2 linked regions of the Homo sapiens genome follow. The protein of the gene in region 1 purifies or fractionates together with the protein of each later gene. This does not show direct contact. Each region holds a gene or a part of one and is shown in the gene's direction. Other genes may lie near its edges. The genes, in order: PBK and LGALS9B.

Region 1 (3,924 bases):
AGCCTGGTCAACATGGTGAAACCTCGTCTTTACTAAAAATACAAAAATTAGCCAGGTGTGGTGGTGCCCGCCTGTAGTCCCAGCTACTTGGGAGGCTGAGGCAGGAAAATCACTTGAACCCAGGAGGCGGAGGTTGCAGTGAGCCGAGATCGTGCCACTGCATGCCAGCCTGGGCAACAGAGTGAGACTCCGTTTTAAAAAAAAAAAAAAAAATTTTGAAACGCTGGACAAATGTAAACCTAGAGTTTAGGAAGGGAGTTCAAGTTGTTATATTTGGAGGTTATCACATTTTTTTATTAGTTTGTGTTTCTGCACATATGTGTTAAATTTTTTACTATTTTAGTATCTGCACCAAGAAAAGAAACTGCTTCATGGAGACATAAAGTCTTCAAATGTTGTAATTAAAGGCGATTTTGAAACAATTAAAATCTGTGATGTAGGAGTCTCTCTACCACTGGATGAAAATATGACTGGTAAGTTGTACTCTTAAGTTTTAAAATTTTGTTTTTAATACAGTGTTTACATTTTTAAATACGTAAGTCCACATGGATCAAAAATCAAAAACTATTTTTAAAAAGTATATGGTAAAAAGTCCCCTTTTTTTCTCTCTCTCCCAGTCAGCCTGCAGTCTTCTCCCTTGCCACATGTACAGTATAAATTACTGTATTATTATTAGTAGTAGTATTAGTATATATTTTAACTGGAGTTATCTTTGGGAAATATTTCTAACTGGATTGGGATCTTTAAGCAGTAAAGCATCTGGGAATAGAAAGTAAAATTTAGTAAGGTTGTGTAAAGCGGTTTATTTAGCATGAGTAAAGTGACAAGATTTAGGAAACTGGTAGAAGAAACTGGAATGAAGCAGAAAAGAGGGGTGCTAATGAAGGCTGGTCTTTGGCTCTTTGCCCTTTCTTCTCTATTGCATAGCTTCTCAGGGAATTTAAGATATGTTCTTGGTGAGAAACAAGAGCCAGCCTCAAGAGAAAGCCTCTGCTTGCAACATATTATTTAGTAAATAATACTTAAATTTGTCTCTTTATATCAACAGAAGTTAAACAAATGGTTAATAAATGCTGTTTAGAACATATAAATGCCTGAATTTCTAGCTGAAGTAAAAGTTTACAAGTTGAGTTGAAGGCAAGAGTCAGAATGAATGGACAGACTTTATAAATAAATGATGTCTGTAATCATTAATAAAAATAGAACTGTTGTGAAACCTTATGCTAAATAACTTACAAAATGGGAACTTTAGAAAGTAAAAGGATAAATTGTCAAACATAATAAAAATGAGGGTTTTTAAAGTATTTTTCTCAATGCTTAATAGAGCAAACAGACAAATGTAAGGATGTTAAAGATCTGAGTAAATAGTAAGGCAAGTACCTCTGCACCATAATATTTATTAAAATTGACCATATTCTTAGATCACACAAAAAAACTTCGAATTATAAAAAGTATGAATAGTCTAATAGGTGATATTCCTTAACATCAATGCTGTAAATCTAGAAATTTGTAATAAAATAGGAAACAAAAACTCCAAACTTTTTAGGAATTTAAAACACTTCCGAATAATTTTTGGCTAAAAAGAGAAATCAAATTCCATTTATAAAATATTTAGAAAATATAAGAATATAACAAGTCAAACCCTATTTGATATGTTCAAAACTACTCAAAGGAAACATTTTCATTATTTAACTTTTATGAAGTTAAGTTGAATATTCAACTGAAATTGAAAAAAATGACGCCCTAAGAACAGAAAGCAGAAATGAATGAATTTGATAGCCTATAAATTCTACATAATCTTAATGTGATCTATTCTAGAACATGTCAGAATTAATCTGAAGTTCCTCTTTGAGGATACATGTTCAATCAAACATGGCTGGGAAAACTCGATGAAAGGAGGAGGAATCTTCCTGAGCAGATAAAAAGTTTTATAAAGCTACAGTAATTAAAGCGATGATACTCATGCCAAAATAGGCAGAAAAATAGAACATGAGAGTCAGGAAATAGTTCCCAAATAGAGGAATTTGTTGTGTGATAAAGGTGACATTTTTGTATTAGTGAGAAAAGAGGTAGTTTAGTCAGTAAATGATGTTATCTGGACATTTTAGAAAAAAACACAGCTGTTTTCTATCCTTACACTTGAATCCCCATATATTGAAGATTGGGGGAAAAAGTAACAGTAGAAAAAATTGTAGATAAATAGTTCTTTAATGTTGGCTGTGGAGAGGACTTTAAAGAAGACACCAAAGCTAGAAACCATCATTAAAAAGCCATGGGTACCTCCATTTAAAAAAAAAGAATTCTATATCACAGTGGGTTGGAGAGGGGCAGGGAGCTTAAGACATTAGAAACTGAGATAAATGTATAAGATATTTAATATTTCTAATGCATTAAGAGTTATTAGTAATCAATGAGAAACAGATAAAAGCTCTATTATGAAGAGACTGTTGAGAAATGAAAAAAATGGCAATTAGGAAAATATATATGTAATGTTCTTACTAATGTTTTAAAAGCTAAATAACAATGAGATAATCTGCTATCAACACTCATCACACTGTGTAAATTATCTGTTAAACGTTTCTCCATTCCTCCATTAGGCTTGTAAGCTCTAAGAAGGGAACCTTGTATATCTTGTCCACTGAAATATCCTCAACTCTAGAATAGTGCCTGACTTGTAAATATATTATTGAAGGAGTAACAAGATTGCTAGTAAATAAAAAGATTGCTAGTATGAGCAACAATGTAGGTTAACATGTCCTCTCATACACTAAGTAGAACTTGTAACTGCTGTTTTACTGAGGTTAGAATAGGTTTTGCTGTGGTAACACAGACCTCAAAAACTTCAGTGACTTACAACAACCAAGGCTTATTACTCAAGCTGCATGGCCATTAGCACCTTGTTCTGTGTCATTCTCCCTTTAGGACTTATACTGATGGAACAGCCACTATATGGAACATGGCCACCATTATGGGGAGGGTGAAAAAGCATTGGAGTGGTACTGTCCAATACAGTAGTTATGAGCTGCATGTTGCTATTTACATTAATATTAAAACATTGAAATTATTTTCTCAGCCACCCTAGCCACAATTCAAGTGCTCAGAAGCTACATGTGGTTAATGGTTACCACATTGGACAATGCAGATTTAGGAGATTTAATCATCATAGAAAGTTTCATTGAACAATACTGCTCTAGAAAGTCTTGCAGTGATAGTTAAATGCTCAAGCTCAGAAATGACACAAGTCATTTCTTGTGGTAGAACCTTTCAGGTGACAGTTTGGAAAGCTGTATTTAAAATAAGAAAAACCTTTAAAAATGTTTATGCCCTTTGACCCTATAGTTTCATTCTTAAGAACACAGTCCAAAGAAGTAATTGAGTAATTAGGCAGTACAGGCATTTTTTTTATAATAACCTGATATATTATTTCCTGCAAAACTTCATTGCGCAAAAGTTTCAAGATATAACTAGGTTTATAGAAAAAAAAAACAGGGTTAAAACCTATGCAACTTTGAAAACTAAAGCAGTAACAAAAACAGTTAATAATCCTAATAAAAGATACTAACACATTAAATCTGCAAGGGCATAAACATTTTAAAATATTTTTCTTATTTTAAATGCAGATTTCCAAACTGTCGTCTGAAAGGTTCTACCAGAAGAAATGACTTGTGTCATTTCTGAGCCGGAGCAAGACTTTCTAGAGCAGTGCTGTTCAGTGAAACTTTCTATGATGATAAAATGTTCCTTTGTAGCCATAAACCCTGGGTTTATGCTGAAGGTTACATATGAGAGTATTTTCAATAGATACTTTTCATCAAGATGAAAAATTTGATCTGGCTTTCTCACTAAAAATATATATATATTTTTAAGCGTGTGGGAAATGTGTTGGCAGCTCCTTTACCTGGACTCACTCACAGCTTTTGTAGT
Region 2 (3,924 bases), on another chromosome or scaffold:
CACGGATCTAAATTCCACAGCAGCCTTGGCTGGCCAATCTTAAAACAACAAATTTGCTTTCTTAATGATTCTGGAGGGCAGATGTTAAAATCATCGTGTGAGCAAGGTTGTTTCCTTCCGGAGGCTCCAGGGGAGAATCTGTTTCTTTTGCTTTTCCAGCTTCTAGAGGCTGCCTGCCTGCCTTGGCTTATGACCCCTCCTGCCATCTTTAAAACCAGCAGCTTTGTCTGGGTGCAGTGGCTCATGCCTGTAATCCCAGCACTTTGGGAAGCTGAGGCAGGAGGATCTCTTTAGCCCAGGAGTTGGAGACCAGCCTGGGCAACAAACTGAGACTGTGTCTCTACAAAGAATAGACAAAAATTAGCCAGGCATGGTGGTGCATGCCTGTAGTCCCAGCTACCTGGGAGGCTGAGGTGGGAGGATCGCGTGAGCCTGGGGAAGTGGAGGCTGCAGTGAGCTGAGATCATGCCACTGCACTCCAGCCTGGGTGACAGAATGAGATCCTGTCTCAAAAAAAAAAAAAAAAAAAAAACACAACAAACAAACAAACAAAACCCCCAAAACCAGCTTCTTGCTTCTGTTGTCACATCTCTTACCTCTGACTTTGATCCTCCTGCTCCCTTTTATAGGACCTTTGTGATTACATTGGGACCACCTGTATAATCCAAGACAATCTCCCCATGCCAAAATTATGCATTTAATCACATCTGCAAAGTCCCTTCTACAACATATTCACAGTTTCCGGGGATTCGAATGTGGATGTTTCTGGGGGGTCGCCCACTGATAACCAGTATTATAAGTTTCTTGTAAATCCTTCCAGAGATATTTTATCTATAAATAAATAAATGCAAGTCCATAGCCTTCCCCTACCCACTTTTTATGCAAATGGCATTATTCCATATCGGTGCTCAGAGTTTTCCTCTTTTTCTTTTTTCTTTTCCGTCTTCTTTTTCTTTTCTTTTGAAAGCTACACAGAACTTATTCTATTATATGGAAATACCCTAATTTATTTCACCTTTTCCCTGTTGGAAGACTTTTAGGCTCCTTCCAATGCTTTGCTTTATAATCCTTTGTGTTATAATGCTGCAATGAATAACCTTGTTTGTTGGATGATATTCAATTTAAAATCTCATTTTTCAGGACAGGCATAGTGGTTCATGTCTGAAATCCCGGCCCTTTGGGAGGCCAAGACAGAAGGATCACTTGAGCCCAGGTGTTCAAGACCAGCCCTGGCAACATATCGAGACCTGGTCTTTTCAAAAAAATTTGAAAATTAGTGGGGTATGGCTTGGTGGCCTGCACTTATTTGGTCTCAGCTGCTCGGGAGGCTGAGGTGGGAGGATTACTTGAGCACAGGAGGTGGAGGCTGCAGTGATCCATGATCACACTCCTCACTGCACTCCAGCCTGGGCAACAGAGTGAGAACCCATCTCAAAATAAAATAAAATAAAATAAATAATAAAATAATCTTGTTTTTCAGAAATTGGGGGTGCCATTTAAGACATTTTGAAACCTCACAGAACTTTTTTGGGGAACTTGTTGCCTTGGAGATTAGCCTGCCCTGTCCTGCCCCCATGACCTGTACTTGGTCTTTCTCCCTCCTGGCTTCCTTAGTTAAGCCTTGTGTGGACTTGCGAGCCCATGTCCATCACTCTCTGCCTTCAATTCTAGGTGCTGTGGTGTGAATACGCTTGAGTGGAGGCCGCATGCTTCCCAGGAGGGTGTGTATTTTCAGCGTTGTCTCTCATGATAGAATGAAAGGCTCTGGAGGGAATCACAGGCTGCCACAAACAGGCAAGGGGAAAAATCTTCCACAGACGTGTTTCAGGGACAACAGGCTTCCCAATCCTAGCCCATGCTGGCCCATAACTGGATCAGGCTGACTCTCCTTCCCCCACACCGCTGGTGTAGACAGGGACAAGAAAGAGAAGTCAGAGACACAGAGAAGCTGTGATTTGCTTGAGGTCACCAAAGTATTTAATGGCAGAGTTCAGACCTGACCTGAGGGGCAAGAAAAGACAACCCCCTCAAATCCATGGGGAGCAGAGACTATCTGGATCAGATCTCAGATTGCCTGGGGCTTTCACGGTGCCAGGTGTGTACACTGAGCTAGGATGGGTTTCCCAGGGTGCTGTGTGGTCACATAACTCAACAATACAGACCAGAAAGCAGTGACCAGTAGGCTGAATTTGGCTAGTGGGTGTTTTCTGTTTGGCCTACACAGTGTTTACTTTAACTTGTTATTATAGGAAATTCAAACATGCAGAGAGAATTGTACCATCAACAACACACACCCATCACTCTGCTCCAACAATGATCAACTCAGGCCTATCTTGCTTCATCCTGTACCCTCCCTCGCTTGCTTCTCTTCCCACCTTCAGATATGCGGAAGCAAATCCAGAGATTTCATTCCATTGTAAATATTTCATTGTGTATCTCTACAATGTGGGAATTTGGGGAGTTTCATTTGAGACAGGGTCTCGCTTTGTTGCCCAGGCTGGAGTGCAGTGGTGCAATCGTGGCTCACTACAGCCTCGACCTCCCAGGCTCAAGTGATCCTCCCACCTCAGCCTCCCAAGTAACTGGGGTTAAAGGTGTGCACCACCACATCTGGCCAATTTTTTTATTTTTTGTAGAGATGGGGGTCCCACTATGTTGCCCAGGCTGGCCTAAAACTCCTGGGCTCAAGTGATTGTTTTACCTCAGCCTCCCAAAATGCTGGGATTATAGATGTGAGCCACTGTGCCCAGTCAGGAACTTTTACATAATCCTTTTTGACAAAAGATTTCCCCCAAGAAATTAGAAAGTTTTACAAAAAAAAAAAAAAAAAAAAATTCAGGTTTCTGTCTCATCTTAAAAATTTGGAAGTTCTGCCAATACTAAGCCCAGATGGTAATCATTGGTTAGTGCTGAGAAGATGTTGACTTTTTAGATGAGGCGTGTGACGTCTACTTTGCCACAGTCCCCACCACTCCCTACCTGGCCATCTGACTCATACACATCACCTGCCTGGCTTCTTTAGGCATTTAATTTGTGTAGGAAATTGACCTAAAGGAGATATTAGAGAAGACATTAAAAACTTGAAGAATGTGAAAATCAGCCATGAGATAGAACTGTGCTTTAATGCAGGTTATAGAACCACACCGGATATGAGGCATTTCGGAATAAACTTTGAAGATTGGAAGTACCAGTTTGTGAATTTTGCTCAGAGAGACCAAGGTGGGGGTGGGTGACAGTGGTGAAGCGTCTCCTCTGTGCCAGTCTCTTCTACCACAGGCTTTTTCTCACAAAATCATCAATCATATGCAGTAGGAGAAACACCTTCCTATTTTACAGATGAGGAAACTGAGGCAAAGAGAGGTGAAATAGGCTTCCCAAGGCCACTCAGGTCAGGAGCAGCAGAGTTAGGATTCAGACCTGGAGTCCGCCTGACTCCAAAACGATGCATGCCTCACCATGGCCCATAGCTCCTTTAAAGAGGCGCGGAAGAGAGAATTTGACAAAGTGCTTGCCCACGGGGCCTGGGATGGGTGGGGAAACTACGCTGGGGCTCGGGGCTGCGGAGGGCATCTGGGAAGAGGCTCTGCTGAAGGTGGTCAGGAGGGCAAAGGTCATGGTGGCCATTGTTATATGGTGGTGGTGGGGAGAGGTGCATGCCTTCTTCTTGACACTCTCTGGTGACCCTCTCGGTGGAACCTGCAGACCCTTGATGGGTCCCTTTGTTCCCTTGGGCCTCCTGAGTCCCCAGCCAGGGCGCTGGGCACTTTGCTGGGAGCTTGGCATGGGGTCCAGCAGCCCCATTGCTACCTAGTTCCTTACCAGCCCAGGGCGTCTGCCTGCTACTTCCCTGCCTGGAAGGAAGGCCTTCCGCCTGGAGCGTTCCTGGTGTGGCCTCCGCTGCCTCTCAGACTCTCACACAAGCTC

What was found.
Region 2: the proteins of PBK (region 1) and LGALS9B purify together in Homo sapiens (affinity purification with mass spectrometry; 3 studies listed by BioGRID and IntAct, with this or other methods). This does not show direct contact.

The regions. Positions count from the first base shown.
Region 1 is NC_000008.11:27,817,114-27,821,037, reverse strand, and holds part of PBK (lymphokine-activated killer T-cell-originated protein kinase), read left to right. Parts: intron 1-343; coding exon 344-473; intron 474-1,377; exon of another isoform or gene 1,378-3,924. UniProt on the Homo sapiens protein: Phosphorylates MAP kinase p38. Seems to be active only in mitosis. May also play a role in the activation of lymphoid cells.
Region 2 is NC_000017.11:20,460,702-20,464,625, reverse strand, and holds part of LGALS9B (galectin-9B), read left to right. Parts: intron 1-3,924.